Linked DNA regions of Homo sapiens: all the other regions are linked to region 1. The links come from fine-mapping of genetic effects on gene expression. A gene starts in region 1. Each other region holds a variant in brackets. All regions are shown on one strand. Distances are between the middles of the regions.

Region 1 (8,173 bases):
ATTGTTTTGAGGCACTGAGTCTGTCATAATGTGTTGCAGCAGCCTAGGAAGCTGGTCCACGGTAGGAGGCAGCCCCGGGGAGGAATGATGGTCCAGGCTCAGAAGCCATGCATGTCACCTCCCCTCATGTTCCATGGGCGAGAACCTGGCCACATGGCAGCTCCCAACTCCAAGGGAAGCTGGGAAATGTAGTAGAGCTGGACACCCACATGTCCACTTAGTACCGAGGAGGGTGGGGGCGCTGGGTGGACAGCTACATCTCCGTCACACGTGTTGTATTGAGTCCTACAGCCCTGCGTGGTGGTGCAAATGCCCCAGGTCCCATCTGCACTCTAAGTCAGGGACTGGTTTGCTCAGGTCCTGGACATAAGGCTGTCTGGACATCCCTCTTTGGCTGCATGGGTTTTTAAAATTTTTCTTTATTTTTATTTTTTTGAGACAGGTTCACACCATGTTGCTCCAGCTGGTCTTGCACTCCTGGGCTCAAGTGATTCCTCCCACCTCGGCCTCCCCAAGTAGCTGGGACCACTGGTGCGCCCCTGGCTGCGTGCTTCTTTTACAAGCGTGGGTGACCCAGGCCCAGCAGCTTTGCAGTTGCAGGCCCACTCAGCACTTTGCATTTCTCTTCATTTCTGGCTCACAGAGATATCACTTTTGTTTTGTTTTGTTTTGTTTTTTTGATAGAGTCCCGCTGTGTCTCCCAGGCTGGAGTGCAATGGCGCGATCTCAGCTCACTGCAACCTTCACCTCCCGGGTTTGAGCGATTATCCTGCCTCAGCCTCCCAAGTAGCTGGGATTACAGGCGCCTGCCACCATGCCTGGCTTATTTTTGTATTTTTATTAGAGACGGGGTTTCACCAGGTTGGTCAGGATAGTCTCGGACTCCTGACCTCAAGTGATCCACCTGCATCGGCCTCCCAAAGTGCTGGGATTACAGGCGTGAGCAACCACGCCCAGCCACCAGTTTTGTTTTTGTTTTTGTTTTTATTTTTTGAATTTTAGTAGAGATGGGGCTTCACCATGCTGGCCAGGCTGGTCTCAAATTCCTAACCTCAAGAAATCCGTCTGCCTTGGCCTCCCAAAGTGCCGGGATTATAGGCATGAGCCACGGCGCCCGGCTTCGACCTATTTTTGAGCACAGCTATACTTCTTGCTTTGCAAATTTTACACTGTATGTGTAATTCCTGTGGCCAGCCTCAGTCTCTGCCACACATTCTCCTGGGGAGCACAATGGGCATGTGGAAGAGTGTGCTGCCCCTTTCTCTCTGGGAGCCACTCTGAAGCACCCTGCTCTTCACCGGCAGCAGACTGGTCTTTCTAAGCCACGAACGCTGCCCTCCTGCTGAAAAGTCTGCAGTGAGCTTTGTCTTTCCTTCTCTGTAAAATTAGCCCAGCTAATTTTTGTACTTTAATTTTAGAGACGGGGTTTCACCATGTTGGCCAGGCTGGTCTTGAACTCCTGACCTCAGGTGATCCACCTGCCTTGGCCTCCCAAAGTGCTGGGATTACAGGCATGAGCCACCGCGCCTGGCTGCTATATTTTCTTTACATGTTTTCTTGAATAAAATACATTTTCTTCAACCTAAAAGTTCATTTTTCCAATTTTAATAGAAATAAGAACATTTCCGTGGGCGCCCAAAGATATGTCCACAGCCTAATCCTCAGCACCTATGACTATGACCTCTTATGGCAAAAGGTGTGACACAGTGAGGGACTTGAGAGGAGGGGTTTGTGCTGGATCAATACAGTCACAGGGCTCCCTCTGAGATGGACACCACCGGCTATGCCTGCTTTTTTGACTAGATGATTTCATACCTCTGTAGAGGCAGAAATTAACCTTTAAAAAACAGGCAGCAATGTGGCCTGGCAATGTGGTGGCTCACACATGTAATCCCAGTGCAGGAGGGTCACTTGAGCACAGGAGTTCGAGACCAGCATTAGCAACACAGCAGGACCCAGTATCTACAAAAATATTAAAAAATTAGAGGCCGGGCATGGTGGCTCACGCCTGTAATCCCAGCACTTTGGGAGGCCGAGGCGGGAGGATCACCTGAGGTCGGGAGTTCGAGACCAGCCTGACCAACATGGAGAAACCCTGTCTCTACTGAAAATACAAAATTAGCCAGGCAAAGTGACGCACGCCTGTAATCCCAGCTACTCGGGAGGCTGAGGCAGGAGAATTGCTTGAACCCGAGAGGCAGAGGTTGCAGTGAGCTGAGATGGCGCCATTGCACTCCAGCCTGGGCAACAAGAGGGGAACTCCATCTCAAAAAAAAAAAAATTAGCTGAGTGTGGTGGCACGTGCCTGTAGTTCCAGCTACAGCTACTTGGGAGGCTGAGGTGGGAGGATCACTTGAGCCCAGGAGATCGAGGCTGCAGTGAGCCTTGATTGCACCACTGCACTCCAGCCCCTGTCTCTAAAGATTAAACAAACAAACAAAAAAAAACAGTCAGCAATGTAAAAAAAAAAATTTTTTTTTTCAGAGATGGGGTCTATATTGCCCAGGCTGGTCTTGAACTCCTGGGCTCAAGCAATCCTCTGGCCTTGCCGCTCAAAGTGCTGGTATTACAAGCCTGGCCAACAATCCTTGTGCACAGAAAATGCAAATTAGCTGTGTCCAGTTAAATGCAATTGACCTTTGCACTAGAGATAGAGCAGTTTTTGCAAATTCATTTCAGCATTCGTCTTCCGTTTTTTTTTTTTTTGACACAGGGTTTCTGTTGCCCGTGCCGGAGCGGTCCTTTTGCCTCAGCCTCCAGAATAGCTGGGACCACAGGTAAACGTCACCATGCCTGGCTAATTTTTTTCTTAAAAAAAATTTTTTTTTTTTGGTAGAGACAGGGTCTTGCCATGCTGCCCAGGCTGGTCTCAAATTCCTGACCTCCAGCAATCCTCCTGCCTTGGCCTCCCAAAGTGTTGGGATTACAGGCGCGAGGCACTGCATCTGGCCAAATTCTTTAAACAATTTGTAACAACTTATGATGTATTCATTATCGAGTTAAATAAAATATTTGACGTGTTCATTTTATATGTGTATGAAGGTCATGATTTTACCTTTAAAAAAATGGTCAACACCTGACATTTCCTTCCGCCACCCGCACTTCCAATTCATCCTCACATCTGACAGTTTAGCTTTCTAAATGCCTCTTGCATCTATCCACTTCTCCCCATCTTACCTGCCACCAGCGGTCTGCCCGAATTGGCTACATTAGGCTCTACCTGGCCCTTCTCCCATCCATCTTCCACACAGCAGCCAGAGTGATCTCATTACAATTCAAACTTCATTATGTCTTATTTATTTATTTAGCGATGGCGGGCGGGGGCGAGGGTCTCACTATGCTGACCAGGCTGGTCTCGAACTCCTGGCCTTAGGCGATCCTCCCATGTCAGCCTCCCAAAGTGTTATGATTACAGGCGTGGGCCACTGCGCCTGGCCCAAACTTCATGATGTCTCTTATCAGCTTAACTTCCTCCGAGGACTTCCCGTGTCTCCCAGAATAAAGACCGAGGTCTTCGCTGTGCTCTATCGGCCTCTGCATGACCTGGCCCCTCTCACACCACAGCTCCGCTGCACCACTAGCCCTCTACCATGCTGAGCTGAGCCTCCTCCAGTTCCCCTGCTGCAAGACCGTTCCTGCCTTGGGACCTCTGTTGGCCCTGCTGTTGGAACCTGCTGTTGGCCTGCCTGGAAAATTCTTCCCTCCTTACCTTGTTTACTCTTATAGGGCCTTCACATCTTGGCTAACATGTGAATCGCCCAAAGAAACCTCTGGTCTCCCAGGGGTTCAGGTCCTACCGTCTCCCCAATACGATGTTATGAAACTCTCACTTCTTGGCATTTATCTCATTTCCCAGGTGAGTACCCATGTGGTTTAACGCTTGACTCACCTTCTAGGCTGCTATGTCCCTGTGGCCGGGGCTCGCGTCCCTGGCACGCATGTGGCCCTTTCTTGGAGGGGAGGTGCATGGTGAGCGGACGAGGACGGCTGAGGGCGCGCGCGGAGGGAGGATGGAGAGATGAAGAGGCTCCCCGCTCCCGGACTCAGGGCACGTGCGTCTCCTCGGCTGGCTTCCTTCCCCCGGCCCCGGGCAGCGCCGCGGATCCTGAGACCCCGCCGCGGGCTGTGTGCTGCTCAGCGCCCATCCTCTGCGCGCGCAACGCTACTTCCGGGCGAGCTCTGCAGACTCGCCACAGGCCGGGCTAGCGCTTAGCCAGCTGCGGGCGGACCCCCGGGACTCTTGCGGGCCAAGACGCGGGAGGAGGCGGGGCAGGGGGCGGGGTCGCGCGGGGACCCGGATGCGGCCCCGCCCCCGCCCTCGGAACCGGAAGTAGAGCCTGGTGCCTGGGAGCGGCTGGCGCGGCGGAATCCAGGGCCGACCCGGGCCGGACCGACCCCAGGCGGCGGTGAGCGAGCGCGGCGTCCGCCCGGGGTGCAGGCCGGGCTCTGCTTCTTCCCTCCTGTGGCGTCGCCTGGCCGCGAAAGGGGAAGGAAGCGGCGGCCGCAGCGGTCTCACCGCTCTTCCGCTTGCGGTTTCGGGGGCCGGGGCAGAGTGGCGAGGCTTTCCCGGCCTGGGGCGGGGCAGGGCGAGGGCCGGGGGTCCGCGAGGGCCACGAGGACGGGTCTGGGCCCAAGGAGGCCGGGCAGGGGGCAAGGGGGCACGGAGGGCTTGGGGCTGGGGTCCGCGGAGGAAGGTTAGAAAGGGGCCAAATTGGGGTATCAGCTCTGAGGGGAGGGTCCCTGGGCGCCGGGGGGCTCCAGGGCAGGAGAGGGGCCAGGCTGGGAGGGGTCTTGGGTCCGAGGGAATAGGAGAGGGGGATGGGCTCCGAGGGGGAGGGTATTAGGGCCCGAGGGAGAGGGGCTGGGCCTGTGGGGTTCGGGGGTCTGAGCGGAGGGGGCCGGGGTTCGAGGGGCCAAGGAAGGTGGGTGTGGGGGGTCTCAAGGAAAGGGCGAGGGGTCTGAGAGGGAGGTGTCTGGGTGCAGAGGGAAAGGGATGAGGTCCGAGGGGAGGAGATTGGGGTCTGACGGGAAGGGGTCCAGGCGCAGAGCTACTGGGATGGGGTCCGAGGGAAGGGAATTGGGGTTCGAGGGGAAGGGGTCGGGGCTCGGAGGAAAGGTATAGGGTCCGAGGGGAGGGGATTGGGGCTCCAGGGGAAGGGATCCAGGCGCAGGGAAAAGGGATGGGGTCCGCGGGGTCAAGGCGGTTGGGGTGCGCGACTTTGAGGGGCTCGCTGTGGGACGTGGCGGAGCAGCTGGGGATCCGCCCGGCCTGCACCTGAGCGGAGGTTTTGCAATCAGGTCAGTGGAGGCAGCGAGGCGCGGCTGCAGCTAGTCGTGAGGCTCTAAATTTGGAACCGTCCCTCCTTCGGGGTGTGTTTAAAATCACCAGAACGGTGCTTTGGGGCTTTCTGTTACGTTTCCATCACCTGGATAGTCTAAGGGATGCCTGATCCCTGAAGCTGGAAGGCCTTGGGTGAGAAGGGACAGGGCTTCCTCCCGCTGGAATCTGTGGACGTTTGGGGCCCCTTGGGGAGGAATTCATTTTCTGCTGAAGGAAGCTCCGGAGGCATCCGGTGAGCGCTCCCTGGAATCCCATGCGCTCCCTTTGGGCTCAGTGTTGACTTGGCTGCGCAGGCTCTGTCGGGGGGACTTCACCCACTAGGTCCTTCAGGCATGATCCAGCCCTCAAGCCCGGCCGGGCCCAAGGCCGTGGCGCAGGAGGGGCTGGCCGCCTGCCCCTGTCTCCATTCACGTGTTTGACCGTGTGGGTGAGTCACTGGCTCCAGAGCACTGAGTCAGTCCTGTTTCTCCTCTGGTTAGAGAAGTATTCGCCAGATACTCAAGGAACAAGGAAGAGTCTTTTAAGTGGGACTCAATAAAAAGTTGGGGAGGCAGGGTTGTTTTGATATTAGGTCCCCTAGAACTAGAAGCTAACCTTCTGCTATATCTTACTGAAAAGAAATTTCTTTTGACCTGGGGCAGGGGTGCGGTGGCTCACACCTGTAATCCCTGCACTTTGGGAGGTCAAGGTGAGAGGATCGTTTGAGGCCAGGAGTTCCAGACTAGCCTGGGCAACACAGGGAGACCTTGTGTCTACAAAAAAAGAAATTCGCTGGGCATGTTGGCTTGCACCTGTTGTCCTAGCTACTTGGGGCGCTGAGGCAGAGGATCTCAAGCCCAGGAGTTGGAGGCTGCATTGAGCTCGATCGCACCACTGTACTCCAGCCTGGGTGACAGAGCGAGACCCTGTCACCCAGGCTGGAGTGCAGAGGCTCTTCACAGGTGCCATCTAGCACACTGCAACCTTGAACTGCTGGCCTTAAGCGATCCTCCCACCTCAGCCTCCCAAGTAGCTGGGACTGCAGGCCCAGCTAAAGCTGACTTTTAATTGTAGCATTTTGATGGACTTGTTTTTAAAACACTTTTAAAATGACAGCACACATAATCGGCAATTCAGATCTTCAGTCTGTGCCACGCAGTAGGTGCTCAGAAAAGGTGTCCTGAGAGTGTGAATTGCTGTGAGCGCTGGTTGCTGCCTTGTGTTGCAGTATTCCCATGGCCTGGGCCAGCCAAGAGCAGGGGACTGTGCTCCAGGAGCAGGCTTGGCTTTCACTGTGGCCCAGGCCCACCCCATCTGCTCACGCACTGCTTTGAGTAAACGGAGTAAATGTTGGGGGCGGGGTTTCCCTTGAGTAAGTGTGGTGTAGGGAGTGTGCCTGTGATGGTGATTTTGGCTACGCAAGTGTCTGTTTCCTTTCTCCTCCTGCTCTGCCATAGATGCTGAGGCTAATGGAAAGCTGATGGTGGACGGATGGTTCTGTCCTGTCATTTAAAACATTCTTCTGCCAGGCTCGGTGGCTCACACCTGTAATCTCAGCACTTTGGGAGGCTAAGGGCAGGTGGATTGCTTGAGCCCAGGAGTTTCGAGATCAGCCTAGGCAACATGGGGAAACCCCATCTCTGTTAAAAATAGAAAAATTGGCCGGGTATGGTGGCTCACACCTGTAATCCCAGCACTTTGGGAGGCTGAGGTGGGCAGATCACGAGGTCAGGAGATTGACACCATCCTGGCTAACACAGTGAAACACCGTCTCTACTAAAAAAAAAAATACAAAAAATTAGCCGGGCGTGGTGGTATATGCCTGTAGTCCCAGCCACTCAGGAGGCTGAGGCACCAGAATCGCTTGAACCTGCGAAGTGGAGGTTGCAGTGAGCCGAGATCACACTATTGCACTCCAGCCTGGGCAAAAGACTGAGACTCCATCTCAAAAGAAAAAAGAAAAAGAAAAATTAGCTGGGTGTAGTGACAGGTGCCTGTAGTCCCAGCTACTCAGGAGGGTGAGGCAGGAGAATCGCTTGAACCCAGGAGGCAGAGGTTGCGGTGAGCTGAGATCACACCATTGCACTCCAGCCTGGGCAACAGAGTGAGACTTCGTCTCAAACAAAAAAAAACAAAAAAAAAAAGAGAGAGAAAAATCAGCTTGGTGTGGTGGTGCATTCCTGTAGTCCTAGCTACTCGGGAGGCTGAGGTGGGAGGATCACCTGAACCTGGGACACAGAGGTTGCAGTGAGCTGAGATTGTGCCTCTGCACTCTAGCCTGGGCCACAGTGCAAGACCCTGTCTCAGAAAAAAAAAAGAAAAAAAAGGCTGGTGGGGGGCTTTTAGGCGCGGTGGTTCGTGCCTGTAATCCCAGCACTTTGAGAGGCTGAGGCTGGCAAATCACTTGAGGCCAGGAGTTGGAGATCAGCCTGGACCAACATAATGAAACCCCATCTCTACTAAAAATACAAAAAATTAGCTGGGTGTGATGGCGCATGCCTGTAATCCCAGCTACTCGGGAAGCTGAGGCAGGAAAATCACTTGAACCTGGGAGACAGAGGTTGCAGTGAGCCGAGATCGCGCTGTTGCACTCCAACCTAGGCAACAGAGCAAGACTGTCTGAAAAAGAAAAAAAAAGTTATTGTGTAGAGGAATTTTTCACTCTGTCTAGACAGCAAGATTACTTCACGTTTGTGCAATCTTGATTTGTACACTGACGTTTGCAAGGAAGGTTTAATGTTGAGGATGGACAGAGTCATTATCTTCTTTTGAACCGTATTGTAACAGCTTTATCGAGATATAATTCACATACCATACAATACGCCTGTGTAGTGTGTACTCTCCACTGGTTTT
Region 2 (8,173 bases), 71 kb before region 1:
TTCCAGAATGGAGGCTGGACAGAGGTAGGAAGGCCCACTTTGCCCATGACTCCACTAGCCAGGATGCAGCATCAGCACCACGTAGCTGGGGTGGGGTGGAACTGGGGGAGAGGGCACTACATTATCAGCTGCAGCAGTCTGGAACAGAGTCGCTGCCTCACTGACCTGGAAAGGGGAGGCAGGGAGCAGTCTTGGTTCAAATACAACAGACTCTGGCCTTTCTTACTGAATTTTCAGTTGTTTGCTGTGAACCCTTAGAACGATCTCCAGAGTCTCAGAACAGTTGTTTTCTTACAATGTTCACCTGTTTTCCTTGGGAGCAAGCAGGTCAGTGGAGCTTCTTGTGCTGTCATGCTAGAAGTTGATTACCCACAGTAGGGATTCTTGCAGAAGAAATATTACTTTAGAAGAGAGGCTGGGCACGGTGGCTCAAGCCTGTGGTCTCAGCTACTTGGGAGGGTCACTTGAGCTCTGGAGGTCAAAACTGCAGTGAGCCATGGTCACACCATTGCACTCTAGCCTGGGTGACACAATGAGACCCTGTCTCAGAAAGAAAAAGGAAGAAAAGGAGGCTAGGACAGGGGTGGTGGCCTTCTAGGCCATCTTTCCTCTCTCTCCAGCAACTCTAGATCACATGTCTGTGAGTCATTTAAAATGTCTTCATTCAGTTCATGTCAGGATCCTGTTCAGGAAAATGTTTTGGACTTCTCTGGCTGCTGAGAAGGTGGACTTGGATTCCCCTTCTTTCCCTGCTGTCCTTGTCCCAGGGTGCAGGGATAGAGGGAAGTCAGATGGTCTGTCAGTGTTGTGATTTGTTAGGGAATCTGTGTGGTCCATTGATGCCCTCTTTCTCTGGAGGATCACTGAGATCCCTTCCCCATAACTTGTAATGAGGTTGCCTTTGTGTGAAGACTGTGGAGCCTTGATGAAAGGCTTTCTTTAGGGGGTCTTTCTTATTTATTTAATTTTGTTTTGTGATTTTCTAGGAGTTCGCAGCACTTACTAAAGAACTCAATGTATGCAGGGAACAGCTCCTTGAAAGGGAAGAAGAAATTGCTGAACTGAAAGCAGAAAGGAATAACACCAGGGTGAGTGTGACCTTTCTGTTCACTGCCTGCCCCTGGAGCCACTGTCAGGAGGAGGGGCGGTGTGTCAAAACGAAAGGACGACCCACTCTGTCTGGCCTGAAATACTTTTCATACCTTTTCCCACTGAGCAGACTGTGATTAGTCAGCATGATCACACATTAATGGCTTGAAATTTGTGATGAGAATTTATGATATTTTAATACAATTGAGAGGAATTTGTTTTTCTGCGGAATTGAAGGGACTTCATTTTAGTATGAGACTGTAAAGGAGTTATTTGCCCCAGATTCAATCATGAAATTAAAAATGCTGTTTAACAAGTCTTTATTTTGGCCTTTTATTTCAGCTGCTGTTAGAGCATTTGGAATGCCTTGTCTCCAGGCATGAGCGGTCTCTTAGGATGACCGTGGTGAAGAGACAAGCGCAGTCTCCAGCAGGCGTGTCCAGCGAAGTGGAAGTGCTGAAAGCACTGAAGTCCTTATTTGAACACCACAAAGCTCTGGATGAAAAGGTGCCATCAGCCACATAAGTCTTGGTTTGTGCACATGCTGTGTATTAGGCCAGCTTCACAAGTGTTGGTGTAACTTTTGTTTTTTGAAGCTTCTTGAATTCTTGGAAATAACTTCTCTAAGAAGACAGGGTTTTGTAGGTTTAAAAAGTACTAATTGGCTTAAATGTCTTAAAATTACTAATGTATATTGATTTGCTGTTACAAATTGGGTAGTATTAGGTTGTTGCAAAAGTAATTGTGGGCAAAACCTGCAATTACTTTTGCAACAACCTGATATTTCGGGGGAAGATTTATTTTTCTGAAACTTAATTTAGAGCCATTAACAAGTTTTCTTGACAGTAAGATCAATGACAGACATTAATGGTATTTTATTATGTTATATTACACTAATATATACATTAAGTGTATATATTACACTTAACTATATATTAAGAATAAAATAAACAGTATACACACACACACACAAACTCAACCCCTTTTATTTTCAGGTGAGAGAGCGATTACGAGTAGCACTTGAAAGATGTAGTTTGTTAGAAGAGGAATTAGGTGCCACACACAAAGAGGTAAGCTTGAGACTTCATCATGAGTTGAATTGGGGGGGGGTTATTTTTATCCTTTAATTATTAAAAGCAGCATAAGGCCAGACGTGGTGGCTCACACCTGTCATCCCAGCACTTTGGGAGACCGAGGCGGGCGGATCACCTGAGGTCAGGAGTTCCAAGACCAGCCTGACCAACATGGTGAAACCCCATTTCTACTAAAAATACAAAAATTAGCCAGGAGTTGTGGCATGTTCCTTTAGTCCCAGCTGCTCGGGAGGCTGAGACATGAGAATTGCTTGAGCCCAGGAGGTGGAGGTTGCAATGAGCTGAGATTGCACCATTGCACTCCAGCCTGGGTGACAGAGCAAGACTCTGTCTCCAAAAAAAAAAAAAAAAAGTAAAAGAAGTATAAGGACTGTAGTTGTACATATCACATGTTACTTATCTTCCCAATTGAGGACCAGCCTATCTGAGTCATTTTAAGGACTACAAAATGATGGTTACCTAAGGACTCGTCTGGCCAGTGGATAATAAATTCCATCTTCAATGATCTGGTTATTTTCGGATTGGGTAGCATTGCCATATGCTTTCTCTTTTATACTATGTTAAGCAGTTTTTAGTTGTGTTTTTCCAAAAGGAGTTTTGCTATCTTTACTTATTTCTCTTATGTAAGGTATTTTACACTCATATTCAATTTTTTGCTTTCAGCTAATGATTCTTAAAGAACAGAATAATCAGAAAAAAACTCTAACAGATGGAGTGCTGGACATAAACCATGAACAAGAAAATACACCAAGCACGAGTGGAAAGGCAAGTCTGTAGGCTTTGTCTTTATTCTGTTTGATTTCATTTGTTCACAGTATGTGTCGGGTTATGTGGAAAACAGTTGCTAAAGTACCGGCTTAGAGCTGAAGTGGTCATGAAAGTTGTGTAATCCAACAGATTGCATAAGTCAGTTTTGATTTTAGCTATTTCCTGGAAGTATTTTTATTTTATAGCTCACCAAACAAGGGTATTTAAGGATTTTTTTTTCCCCCTATCAGAGATCTTCTGATGGTTCTTTAAGCCACGAGGAAGACCTTGCTAAAGTAATTGAGCTCCAAGAAATCATAAGTAAGCAGTCAAGGGAACAGAGCCAAATGAAAGAACGCCTGGCTTCCCTTTCCAGTCATGTGACAGAACTGGAAGAGGATCTGGACACGGCTAGAAAAGATCTCATCAAATCTGAAGAAATGAACACAAAATTGCAACGAGATGTCCGTGAAGTGAGCAATAACAAAAACTACAGTCTTGTCATGAAGTTGTATGTTTGGGACGTTTTAGTTAAATGATTTTTTTTCTCTGTTTGTCTCTTACTCTCCCAATTACTTTCAACCTTTGGATTATTGTATAAGTTATATTGAAAAAGAGAGAGTGCTGTGAAACTGCCATAAGCTACCTCCCCATTTTTGTTGTGAAATCTCCTGTCCCTGAGCTCTTCAAAGTAGAGAACTAGTCCCACTGACTGACATGGCCATGAAGTGGACGCCACACTGGCCTCTCCTACCTGTGCTGCTTTAATATTCTTTAATGTCCTTGTTTGTAGATTCTTCATCTGTGCAATTTCTAGGCTGTCTTAATTTGTTCTTATGTTCAGATTGCCTTCTGTTGCACACATACTTAGCAAGCAGATATTGATACTGGCTGTGCTAGCTCACGTAGGGCAATGTGAGTATAGTCTCTTAACTGTGGGAGGGGGCGTTGCTGGCGGTCTTCTCATTTTCTGACCTGCTCCTTCAAGGAATTTGTGGCGTTGAATATTAATGGTCAAACAATCAAGAGTGGAATTTGCTTCTACATGGGTCATCAGGATCGTATAGCAAAAATATGTCACAATATACTCATTGCTGACAAATATTTCTGCCATTATAACTGTGAGAAACTATTTGATCATGAATGCCGGGC[G/A]TGGTGGCTCACGCCTGTAATCCCAGCACTTTGGGAGGCTTAGGCGGGCGGATCACGAGGTCAGGAGATCGAGACCATCCTGGCTAACACGGTGAAACCCCGTCTCTACTAAAAAATACAAAAAAATTAGCCAGGCGTGGTGGCGGGCGCCTGTAGTCCCAGCTACTCGGGAGGCTGAGGCAGGAGAATGGCGTGAGCCCAGGAGGCAGAGCTTTCAGTAAGCCGAGATCGGGACACTGCACTCCAGCCTGGGCGGCAGAGCGAGACTCCGTCTCAAAAAAAAAAAAGAGAGAAACTATTTGATCATGAAACAGTGAGGCTGAGTGCTTTCTCAGGTGCCCTTCCTGTCACTTTCTAACCTGCGCTTTGTCCCTTGTCAGGCGCCTCAACCGTTGAATGTCTGCTTTTCAGTTTGGTAGTTTGACGTTGAGTAATTTCATGTAGGAATTCACCACAGGAAGAACATTTGCATGTAGTATGTCACCTAAGGTTCTATTCTTTGGCTACAGCAGGAGATTATGTGGCAGAGATTAATATGCAGAGAATTTTGAAATTCTTTTAAGACCTATCACTTTTATTTTTTAATTTTTTATTTTAACTTTTAAGTTTGGGGTACACGTGTAGGTCTGTTACATAAGTAAACTTGTGTCCTGGCGGTTTGTTTTACAAATTATTTCATCACCCAGGTACCAAGCCTAGTTATTTTTCCTGATCCTCTTCTTCCTCCTATCCTCCACCCTCCACCCTTTGATAGGCCCCAGTGTGTGTTGTTCCCCTCTGTCTGTCCCTGTGTTCTCATCAGTTAGCTCCCACTTATAAGTGAGAACATGAGGTATTTTGTTTTTCTGTTTCTGTGTTTGCTAAAGATAATGGCCGCCAGCTCCATCCATGTCTCTGCAAAGGACATGATCTCATTCTGTTTTATGGCTGCATAGTATTCCATGGTGTATACGTACCACATTTTCTTTATGGAGTCTATCATTGATGGGCATTTAGGTTGATTCCTTGTCTTTGCTGTTGTGAATAGTGCTGCAGTGAACATACGTGTGCGTGTGTCTTTATAATACAACGATTTATATTCCTTTGGGTATATACCCCGTAATGGGATTTCTGGGTTGGTATTTCCATCTTTAGGTCTTTGAGGAATCTCCACACTGTCTTCCACGATGGTTGAACTAATTTACCCTCCCACCAAGAGCAGGAAAACATTCCTTTTTCTCCACAACCTCACCAGCATCTGTTACTGATTGACTTTTCCACAATAGCCATTCTGACTGGTGTGAGATGCTGTCTCATTGTGGTTTTGATTGGCATTTGTCTAATCGGTGATGTTGAGCTTTTTTCCCCTATCACTTGTAATATTTAGACTTTGCTAACTTTAGTCATTTTATAAATAGGGAACAACTTGAAAATAGTGAATTCTGGGGGTGGAGGACAGGTATTTCTCAAGCAAAAAGTTCTGGTCCTAGCCTTAAGTGTTTGAAACTGTATAGTAATCATCTTGTAGACTTCAGGTAGTTGCATCCAATTAAATTAAACTGGTACTTCTGTTTCCATTTGTCAATATGCTTGAGTCTTGTAATTGTATGAGAGTTCATCCAACCCTTATCCTAGAAAGTGAGACTTGTATCTCACTACTGTGTCCACTGAGAGAGGCCGCACCCTGTCCTGTGTGAGACCATTTGTAGCGTGAGGCAGACGTAGACTGCGTCTTCTTTGAGGACACTTTCACCTCCTTGAAAAATATTTAGATATTTGAGTGTATATATTTTTATAATATTATGTAGAAACAGGAAAGCTTGGTCAACTGAGTGGCCAGACATAGTATTAAGAGAGACAAGTCTTTGTTAATCGTATAGGTGAATATTTATGGTATTTGAGGTAGTTACATTTTCATTCACATTTGAGAAAATTGACATCTTCATCAATTTAATTTTGAGGACATTATTATTTATTTATTTATTTTTGAGACAGGATCTCTCTCTGTTACCCAGGCTGGAGTGCAGTGGCGCCATCATAGCTCACTGCAGCCTTGAACTGCTGGACTCGAGCAATCCTCCTGTCTCAGACTCCCAAGTACCTGGGACTACAGGGGCGTGCCACCATGCGTGGCTAATTTTTGTTTCTTTAAAATGTTTTTGGCCAGGGACACTGGCTCACGCCTGTAATCCTAACACTTTGGGAGGCCAAAGGAAGGCCAAGGAGGATCTCTTGAGCCCAGGAAACTCAAGACCAGCCTGGGCGATATAGTAAGACCTCTATTTCTACAAAAAATTAAAAATTAGTTGGATATAGGAGTGTGCGCTTGTAGTCCCAGCTACTGGGAAGATTGAGGTGGAAGGATCCCTTGAGCCTGGGAAGTCAAGGCTGTGGTGAGCCTTGATTGCACCACAGCATTCCATCCTAGGTGATAGAGGGAGACTCTGACTCAAAAAACAAAATAAAATATTTTTGTAGAGACAAGGTCTTGAACTCCTTGCCTGAAGCCATCCTCCCGCCTTAGCCTCCCAAAGTGCTGTGATTATAGGAGTGAGCTGCTGTATCTGGCCTGAGGATGCTAATTTTTAATTTGATTGGAAATTTGGGATTTACTTCAGTTTTTTTCTCTCTTAAGTATCTTAATGTGTAATCGTTAATTACCTACTTTTTTGTCCCCTCTGAAATACCTAATTTAGGCCATGGCCCAAAAGGAAGATATGGAAGAGAGAATCACTACTCTTGAAAAACGCTACCTCGCTGCACAGCGTGAAGCCACATCTGTGCATGACCTCAATGATAAACTTGAAAATGAAATTGCAAATAAAGATTCTATGCATCGACAGGTAATGGATTTTATCGACCTTTGTCTGGCTTTAGTTAATTATTAATGAAGTTAAAGACCCTTTTTCTCTCACTTTCATGTTGGAAATCAAGTCCAAATATCAAGTTTTTATGACCTTAGAATATTATGTTCAAGACATGTGGGAGTTCCTTCAGTTTAGAGGTTTTGATTACGTAGGATTTGATTTAACCAATTTTGTCCTCAGTTTTTTCTTTTGTTGTAATTGAAAGTTAATCTATTGCTTGTTAGCATTTTTACCAAAGGAGCAGAGAGTGGCAAAGAACTTCAAGGCAATTGGCTATTTGTAACTAAGTGGGAGCACTATGATACATGAATAGTATGACAAATGAAGTCTTGGTCGGATGCGGTGGCTCATGCCTGTCATTCTAACACTTCGGGAGGCTGAGGTGGGAAGATCGCTTGAGCCCAGGAATGTGAGAACAGCCTGTCTCTACAGAAAATTAATAAATTAGCCGGGCATGGTGGCATGTGCCTTTAGCCCTAGCTACTCAGGAGGCTAAGGAGGGAGGATGACTTGAGCCCTGGAGTTCAAGGCTTCATTGTGCTATGATTGTGCCACTGGACTCCAGCCTGGGCCACAGAACGAGACCCCGTCTCTAAAATAAAAAATGCGGCCAGGCGCGGTGGCTCACACCTGTAATCCCAGCACTTTGGGAGGCCGAGGCAGGTGGATCATGAGGTCAGGCATTTGAGACCAGCCTGACCAACATGGTGAAACTGCGTCTCTACTAAAAATACAAAAATTAGCTGGGCTTGGTGGCGCGCATCTGTAATCCCAGCTGCTACTCAGGAGGCTGAGGCAGGAGAATCGCTTGAACCCAAGAGGCGGAGGTTGCAGTGAGCCGAGATTGTGCCACTGCACTCCAGCCTGGGTGACACAGCTAGACTCCGTCTCAAAAAAAAAAAAAAGGCAGTGAAGTCTGTAGTAAGAAATTGGGTCTCCTGTGGTTTCGTAAACCATACTTATTCTTGTAATTACGAGTATCACTGTATTCCAGCCTGGGTGACAGAGCAAGACTCTGTCTTTAAACAAACAAAAAAAAAGCTTCTTAAAAGTTATTTAGGAAAAGCAAACACTTTGACAAGAGGTGTTTTGCACATTGAAACCAAGACCAGGAAAGTGGGCATGTACTCCTGGCAGCAAGAAAACCTTACCCAGGCCGGGCACAGTGGCGCACACCTGTAATCCCACCACTTTGGGAGGCTGAGGCGGGTGGATCACTTGAGGTTAGGAGTTCAAGACCAGCCT
Region 3 (8,173 bases), 100 kb after region 1:
CCTCATCTTGATTAGATCTACAAGGATCCTATTTCCAAATAAGGTCCCATTCACAGAACTTTGGGGGTCACTTTTCAACCCAATACAACTGTAAAGGCCTGACTTTTGTTCCACATGGCCTTTCTGGAGTGTGACGAGTGCTTTTTCCGAGGCGAGGCCAGTCCTCCCAGAGACAGGTGGAGGCAGCACGAGGGGCCTGGAGCATTTGCCGTGCATCCACTATGTGCCCCGCACTTCGCATGTGCGCCATGGGATGCCCTCATGGCCCTAGAGGCAGGGGCTGTCAGCAACGCTCGGTGTCTTCAGTCCCCAGCTGGATCCCCCAGTGTGACCAGGCTGGGCCACGGCTGCTGGTCCCTTTGGGGTCTTCCTGCCCACACCCTTGCCCCCTGTTATATCTGGGGTTGAGGCTCTGGAAGCTCAAATTTGTAGCCAGTTTCTCTTGCTCAGACGGGAGGTGGATCTTCTGATGCCACCCTGGGGGAGGAGGGTGGTGTGGATGGGGCCAGGTCCCAGCAGGCCACAGGCGCCCACGGTGGCTCAGCCACCTGAGTCCCGAACTGTTCTCCCTGACAAGGGACTTCTGTTGTCCCACGCTGTTCTGGCAACTGGGTCCCTGGCAGCCATGGTGGGGCATCTTCCTCAGTTAGGTGATGAATAGAGGGCCATTCCCGTGAGCTGGGGTTTGGCCTTGGATTGAAGGGGTGTTCACACACAAACGTAATTGCACGACATAGAAAGAAGGGTATTCTGTACCCCGGGTGTCCACCACATCCTCGGCGCAGCAGTGGGGCCTAGAAAGCCCGCTGGGAGTTTTCTGGGCAGCTGTAGGATGCTGGTGCAAGCCCGGGGCTGCTGCAGAGAGGCCGCTGGGATGACACAGGTCGGGACAGTGGTGGTTCTGTGCCCACCTCACCCAATCTCATCTAACATGATTGGGACAGAGTTAAGATGTGCCTTAGGGCCAGGTGCTAGGCTCCTCCCAACTCCAAGGGATTAATTAAAAGCTGGGAGTGCTGCTTTTAATTGTTGGGGGAGCTGTGTCCAGCAGCAGGCGAGCAATACCCCCCGATGTGCTTGCTGCTGTGAAAGGGGGAACCTGAGTCTATCTGGGGCCTGCGGTCCGGCTGCCCACAGCCACAGTGACTGCCAGTCTCCCACTCCACACCAGCCCTGGGTGGGGAGGTGTAGCCAAAGGGCTCACACTGCTCCCTTCTCCTTCTAGTGCCCCACAGGGCACAGGGCAGCCTCTTGGGGAATGGGTGATTTCCGGGCCTTAAAGGGAGGCAGTTCCTGCCCACCACAAAGGGGTCCTGAGGGTCAGGAATGCAGCCAGAGGCTCTGCTCATCTGCAACCCCCCATCCAGGCAGCCCCAGCTGAGACCAAACAGGGGTCCGGCCAGCTTCACGGTCATGACGATGTGAACACAGGTCAGGGAAGAAACACAGGACACGCTGGGGAATCACAGACAGAAGCCAAGCAGAAAGAACAGACAGATGAATGTGCTCCAGGGCGGCAGGGCTCCTCGGGCAGGACCCAGCAGGAGAAGCCAACAAGGCTTTGCGACACATTTGAGACTTCACGGCATCACAAAGGATGTTTCTGTTCCACAGGGGGGTGATGGGCAGGGGGCTGAGACAGACACTGGGCCTCCCTTACCCTTCTTCTTCCGGACCGAGGCTTGCAAACAGAAAGGGGACCGCCATGAGCCACCAGGATGCAGCGCCCGCCCGCAGCCTACACTCGGGCCTTGTCAGCTCAGGGCGCCTCAGGAGCAGGCTGGGCCGGCAATGGGGCGGCAGGCAGGGGCTGTCTGGAACGCTGCGAACGCAGGCTGCGCTATCCATGGAGTGGCTTTCCCCAAACCTTGGCTGCCCGCACAACTCTGTCCTGTCTGCCCTGCTCGTTAACCTACTGCCTGGCAGTGGAAAGGGGCTTTCCTTCTTCCTCAGCACCCCTTGTCCCACCAGCACCCTGCCAAAGTAGGGAGGAGTTCTCAGAGCAGACATGAGCAGAGGTGGCGGGGCCAGCCTTTAGAGTGCACCTGTGGCCTTTCCTGCCTCATTCTGTTGTTTCTTGACTGAGCTGAGCTCTCAGGAGCACCCCTTGCAAAGATGAGAGCTGCTAGGCTTGTCCCTCTGGGGAGCCCCAGGACAGGCCTCTGTGGAGAGGGCCTGGAGGCTGGTCACCTCCTCCGTCGCCTGTGAGGCTGGGGCACGCGGGGCACTACTGGTTCTGGGTGGGTGGGGCAGCGCCACTGCAGGGCTGCTGTTTTGGACTGAGGCCTCATGCCCATCCTCAGACTCTAGCCCCAGAACCTCGTGAGAAGCGGCCTGGCCGGCCTCAGCGCCCTGGGCCGAGGAAGGATGACATCACTGCTGTGGCAGCACTTAGCACTTGCTAGACTCCTCTCGGGAAAGCTGCCTGTGCCAGAGTGCAGGGAGGACGGGGCCTGTGAGTGAGAGCACCAGCCAGGGCTTGGCTCTCAACCCCCCAGGCCAGCTGGACTGGACCGTGGGCCTTGGGCGGGGGCTCGTTTCTGCGCCCATGTAAGCTGCCTTCACCAGCTCCAATTTGTGCTCCAGTGGAGCAAGCGTTTCCACCTACATGCCATCTCTGTGTGTTTCAGAGCCACCCTCTTTCCAAAGGTGTCCCTGGCTCCATGGTGACTCCCCGGAACAAACAGGATCCTGCATGGCCAGCATGGCCCACGTGGCTGCTAGTCGCCCTTCCCCTGCCTACAAGATGGAGTCAGAGGGCCAGAGCCTCTCTCTGTTGCTTGCAGACCTTACACAAAGGTGCCGGGCGTTCCCTAAGCCTGCTGTGCAGACCAGACTGCTCTGCCAAGCCCACGCTATCTACACACAGATCCCCGGAGGATGGAGCCTTCTGGTCTGAGCCACGTGGGGAGCAGCTCACACAGGCCTCCGAGGCCTGGGCTGAGGTGGATGTCAGTGGGGGTGCCCTAGACAGCAGGGGGAGCTGCTTTGGGGACCCAGTGGGGCTGCTTACCTTTATCCACTAGTGAGAGGCCCAAAAATTCAAAACAAAACAATGTTAGATAAACAGAAAAGAGGAAAGGCAGGACTAGCAACAACGCCCCGCGAGGCTCCGAGGGAGGTGCACACATGGGGCTGCGGGGCATGCAGGGGCATTTCCTGATGCACGTCTGGGTACAGGGGCAGGAGGGGGGTAGCGAGCAAGCGTGGGGTCATGCACAGCCTGGTGCTTTGCAAAGGGCAGCTCAGGGACCGGCATGGTGACTGTACAGGGCTGGGCCGGGTGTGCGACTTACCGAGCTCCTCCAGCTCCGAGGTCATGGACTTGGAGCGCAGGGTGAGGGCTGTGGTCGGTGCCCGCTTTGGAGGCGGGGGAGCTGGAGGGCAGAGGAGAGATGGGTGTGAGACCCCAGCCCATGTTTCCAGATATGGGAATAAGGCTAGCAGTGGCCCTGTGGCTGGCAGGTGGGTCTCAGGCTGTTTGGCTGCGGTGGTCAGGGATTGTGCAGGTGTGCTTATGATGGGAAAGGACAGGTGCTCAGGAGGATCTTGCCATATCCCTGAACTGCAGTGCAGGCCCTCATGGGTGGGCCTGGGCAGGGGGAGGGAGGGGACAGGGCACTGAGTGGGAAGCCTGCGGAAGGGACGCCTGCTAGTGACTAAAAGGGCACTCCTGGTGGGACATGGATGATTCCGGCAGCGTGTGAGCCCCAAGTCATTGTCGTGGGCTCTGGCGGTAAATTCCAGCCTCACCCCTGTGCCTGGGCTCTCAGAAGTGTGGGATCAGCTGGAGAGAGGGCCCACTGCCCCCCAGCTGTCCTGCCCGCCCCCACCCCCCCCCCCCAGTAGGGCCCCAGGCTGGAGCTGGGCGATGTGGGGCATGTACCTTTCTTCCTGGCGGTGTCGTCGGGGTCCAGATTCCTGGTCACCGTGACCACCTTAAGGACCAGGTGATTCCCTCCCTGCCGGATCATGTTCACCACCTGCCTGTGGCCGACTTTGACAACATTCTCATTGTTAACCTGTGGGAAGGCGGAGAGGATGGCATCAGTGAGAGCCAGCGGAGAGGAAGACAGTTGGCACCCACCCAAGGCAGAGACATGTGGGCTCCTAAAAAGGGGGCAAATGCAGGGAAGCAAAGGGAGTGAGACCGTCATCTTTTTGGAAGCAAAGGTGCTTTTGGGGAAACCAGAATGAATGCTGCTGTGACTGTGGAGGTCACTTAACTGTGGCTCAGGAGGTTGGGGGAGGCCTTCCTCTGACACTGCAGCTCTCTGCTGAGTCCTCCACAGCTGCTGCAGAGGAAGGGCTGATTTCTATTTAACCTGAGCATCCTTAGGTGCTTACTTTTACAGGCCTGGGGCAATTTTCAGGGCCACCAAGAGACTGCATGTGAAGAGCCTGACAGGCGAGTTCCAGGGCTGGGCTGCAGTGCCAGGCTTTGCATCCTCACAGGAGGAGGAAACGTGGCGCTTAATTGCTTCTCATGTATTCTGGGAATGCACATCACACTGAAGCAGCCCCTTTCCTCCCACTCCCTCCCTCCCTGCTCTCCCGCTCCAGAGGCCTGGGAAGGCAGAAAAGCCTGGCCCAGCAGGGTGCTTACAAGAGTGGGGGCCCTGTCCCTGTGCTGGTCTGTACAACTAGCTGCCCCAGTGCTCCTGGGACGGTGAGTGGCAGGCTGGGGACCCCCAAGGCTGCCATGCTATGGCCACTGCCCTGCAGTTGAGGAACTCTTAGGAGCCGGTTACCTCCTGCCCT[A/G]TTTGTCCTCACCATGGCAAATGCACCTGACACGGAAGTAGGAACGGACTCAGGGTGCCATCCCCCTGGCCCCTCTGCTATTCTCACCTCCCTGAGCAATGCTCAGCAGCAGATGGCCTTGGCCTCTGCCTCCCAGCCCCACGCTACTCCCAGAGGAAAACCCGAGTGATGGAGACTGGAACTGGGTGGGCGTCTGGGCTGACACTGCCCACCCTGGCTACTGCAGGAGTAACACTTAGTGGTTTTCAAATGTTGCTGTGAAAAGGCCCCGGCCTCACCCCTGCCCATGGAACTGAGCTCCACAGGGGGCCTCTGGCACCTTCATCCCAGCAGCTCCTGAATGGGAGCGCAGCCCAGAGGCAGCTGTCTCTAGGTGGCAGCAGGGAGGGGGAAGCCCCAGAAGGTGAAGTTTACAGCTGCTTCACACGCCACCTTCGAACAAAGAAAAGCACCCTGATCGTAAACAACAGCCAAGACGTCATGCCCCTCACCAGCCACACTGTGCTGTACGCATATCCTCCTGCTATAGATTCTTCAAAAACTAAACATCTGGTATACCCACAAACAGAAAACTTAAAGCCTGTGTGCTGCTTGGTGGATTTTCACAAATCCAACATCCCTGTAAGAGCTGGATAGAAGCAGGTACTGCCTGGCTCACCATACTGTTGACAGGCCCAGTGCCTGGCTCCCCATACTGTTGACAGGCCCAGGATGTGCCAGTTTTGGTCACCTACGAGACGGCTGCAGAGGTCCTCCAGGCAGGGCTGCGAGGAGCCCAGGGAGGACTCAGTGGGGCCAGGGCAGTCCCCGTGCCAGCTGCTCTGCAGTCTCTGCTGTGGGACCGGCTCATTCCCATGTACTCAGACCCACCCGGTTTCAGCAGTGAGTATCCAGTGTCCTGGGTCCACTGGACAGCTGGTCACCCTGCACTGCCCTGAAGATAGAGTCTTGGGAGCAGGACTATCCTAATGGGGCCTTGGGAGAGAGGCCCACCTACAGCGGCAGCGGTCTTTGCAAGGTGACTCCTGGGGGCTGTTCCTTTCACTGAGGTTCTCAGAATGTAATTAGGAAAGCAGATGGATTTAGGAAGTAAAGGAGCCGGATCGAGGAAGACAGCACCGGGAGTTCTCGGAGGGCAGACCTCAGCTTGCAGGACCCTCGCTGCTCTGGTACAGACAGGCAACCGAACACCAGCCACGCGTTATCGGGTTCTCTCCCCTCCCATGAGCACACCCGGGTAGTGGCTGTTGCTCATTCATTCATTCATTCACTCATTCCAGTGTTTCTGTTCCCCGTACCACTAAAAGCCATGAGGCACAGGCAGTTCAGCTGTCTCTGCCTCCATCTGTGGGAAGTTTGCGTCCTCATCAGGGAGTTTTGGCCGACACACAAAGAAGTGAACACATAACTTCAGGTGGCTGAGTACCACCTAAGAAGGCAGAACCAAGTAAAAGGAGACTGAACAGAGGCCTGGACCCACCAGGAAAGAGCAGTGTGGGCGGAGTCATGGAGTGGGAATGGGCAAGGAAGCGGTAGGCAGGGGGGCGCAGAAAAGGCCAAGGCCTGAGAGCAGGGCCTTGGATGCCAGGGTGAAGTTATGGGCCAGGGAGTGCTGAGGCCCGATGCAGAGATGAGGCATCTGACCCGAGCAGCTGTGAGTATGAGGTGCCAAACACACGTGGGGGGGCACCGAGACACTGGGGTCTCAAGCTGAGATGGAGGAGGCAGGCTGCCCAGGCTCAGGAGCCGCGAGGCCAATGTGTGAGGCCTTGGTGAGAAGACCTGGCAGTAGGGAGCCCCCAGCTGCCTGGCCACTAGATCCCCAGGGGTCATCCCTTGCAAGGCTGTGGGGAGCGAGGGGAGGACTCGGCCCCACCTTGAGATGGGCTGGGACCAGCTTTCCTGCTCTGGGCGGGCCCCCAGTGCCGGGCCTTGAGGGGGCTCCAACCAAGAAAGTGCATATTACTGCCTGCTTGCTCCTGCCACCCGCTGTGGGGCATTCTCTGGATCTGATGCTTGGGGAGAGTACGAGACTGGCACGGGGATGGGCTGCCAGTCACTGGAGAAGCCAAGCTCAAGTTGCGGCCTCCTGAGGGCTCGTCGGGCTGATGGGGACTTTAACAGCCTGGCCACTTAGGCAGGGAGGGGCTGGGGATGTGGCCTCTGACTGCAGCCTGCTAACCATCACGGCCTTGGGCTCACTCCCTAGAATCCTCATCCTCCAGAATCTCCCGTGGTTCATTTGTGGTGGCTGGATGCTGTCCTTCTGTGATCTTGGCCAGAGCTGGCCCTTGGCCGCTTTGGGAGAAGCAGTTTGTTCCTGTGCCTTGGAAGGGTCAAGGGGCTGGAGGGCCCTTTTCCTCAGAAGTGTCAGAGACAGACATTACTCTTTTCTGGGCAGGGGAGGCAAAGGACCAAAGAAAGGCCTCTCGGGGAATGAGCCACTCATGGGGGATTCTCAGGAAGCTTGGCTGCGGGGCCAAGGACCTTGGCGGCCCCAGCACCTTCCTTGTCTGTAGCCGACAGCCTGGGTGCACGTTCTGGTGGCACCTCCACACACTCATGCTGCCCCAGCCAGAGCTGCTCCTGCACAGGGCCAGGCTGGCTGCCCAGATTTGATGTCTCATATCTGAGTCTGCAGAAGCTGCTGTTCCCACCCAACTCCTAATCAGGGCTCCCCAGTTCCTGATTCCATCCCCTGTACCCCTCGTAGACCTGCTGCCCTCAGCAGACTGCAGCAAATGGCAGGACCTGCTCAGGAGAGCTCAGAGGAAATGAGGCTCCCATGGGCCCTGGAAACATCACTTGGCCTTCTCTGAAAGCTGATGACAAAGAGGCATACAGGGCTTGCAGGGGTGGAGCTAGGTTTGGAATCAGTTGTTGGGCATCTGATGCCCCTCTGACGTCCAGAATCTGTCTCGCCCAGGTCTTTCGGGGTCATGAGCCACTTCCAAACAAAGTTGCTTTGGACGAGCTTCCCTGCAGTCCCAGCTCCACTTGGAGGGCCCTCCCTCCTGCTTCATGGAGGGATGGTATCCGGTGAGCCCTGGTCCTGGTGGGCCTGCACCCCTCCAGAATCAGCATATTATTGGGTCCGGAGCCTGTGGGGGCCCTGCTGCTTGCTGGGTGCCCGTGGGCAGGACACCTGCCTCTCTAGCGGGGTGTCCTCAGTAAACAGCATGGCTTCCTGCCCTGGCAAGCACTTGGGGGCAGGGAGGTGGTGCCAACAGGGCCTCAAACCATCCACACACATCCTAGGATGTTCCCTTTGGTCCCCATCCAGCGATTACCAAGGGTCAAATCCCACCCACACAGTGCCTCAGTCAGTTTTAACTTAGCTGTCACAATTTAAAGAGTATAAGACCTTTGCATAGAAAGTCTAGAATTTCAGTTTTCATTGAAAAATTAGAAC

The links. PIP is the estimated chance that this variant, and not a neighbour inherited with it, causes the effect. A credible set is the group of variants that fine-mapping cannot tell apart.
Region 2: its variant is the best candidate, but not a certain one, in a credible set for the expression of CTTN in lung (TOPMed, PIP 0.70).
Region 3: its variant is the best candidate, but not a certain one, in a credible set for the expression of CTTN in whole blood (INTERVAL, PIP 0.77).

What each region holds. Positions count from the first base shown.
Region 1 is chr11:70,394,209-70,402,381 of GRCh38, forward strand. It overlaps CTTN (cortactin), which reads left to right and starts at 4,321. Exons shown (of 18, transcript NM_005231.4): 1 at 4,321-4,406. CTTN-DT (CTTN divergent transcript) reads right to left here and starts at 4,254. Exons shown (of 3, transcript NR_186321.1): 1 at 3,890-4,254. RefSeq lists silencers at 2,651-2,839, 3,937-3,986, 4,087-4,596, 5,178-5,247 and enhancers at 3,617-3,686, 6,535-6,829.
Region 2 is chr11:70,323,416-70,331,588 of GRCh38, forward strand. It overlaps PPFIA1 (PPFI scaffold protein A1), which reads left to right. Exons shown (of 28, transcript NM_003626.5): 3 at 987-1,088; 4 at 1,432-1,596; 5 at 2,085-2,159; 6 at 2,847-2,948; 7 at 3,182-3,403; 8 at 6,758-6,904. It overlaps LOC105369373 (a long non-coding RNA gene), which reads right to left and starts at 3,839. Exons shown (of 2, transcript NR_188532.1): 1 at 3,685-3,839; 2 at 1,393-1,712. RefSeq lists a silencer at 5,957-6,093. The variant G/A (reference allele first, on the strand shown) is at 4,083.
Region 3 is chr11:70,498,910-70,507,082 of GRCh38, forward strand. It overlaps SHANK2 (SH3 and multiple ankyrin repeat domains 2), which reads right to left. Exons shown (of 26, transcript NM_012309.5): 18 at 3,887-4,022; 19 at 3,297-3,377; 20 at 3,014-3,022; 21 at 1,661-1,681. Among named protein-coding and RNA genes, the nearest start is that of CTTN, 100 kb to the left of the region's middle. RefSeq lists a silencer at 1,767-1,926 and an enhancer at 6,593-7,092. The variant A/G (reference allele first, on the strand shown) is at 4,762.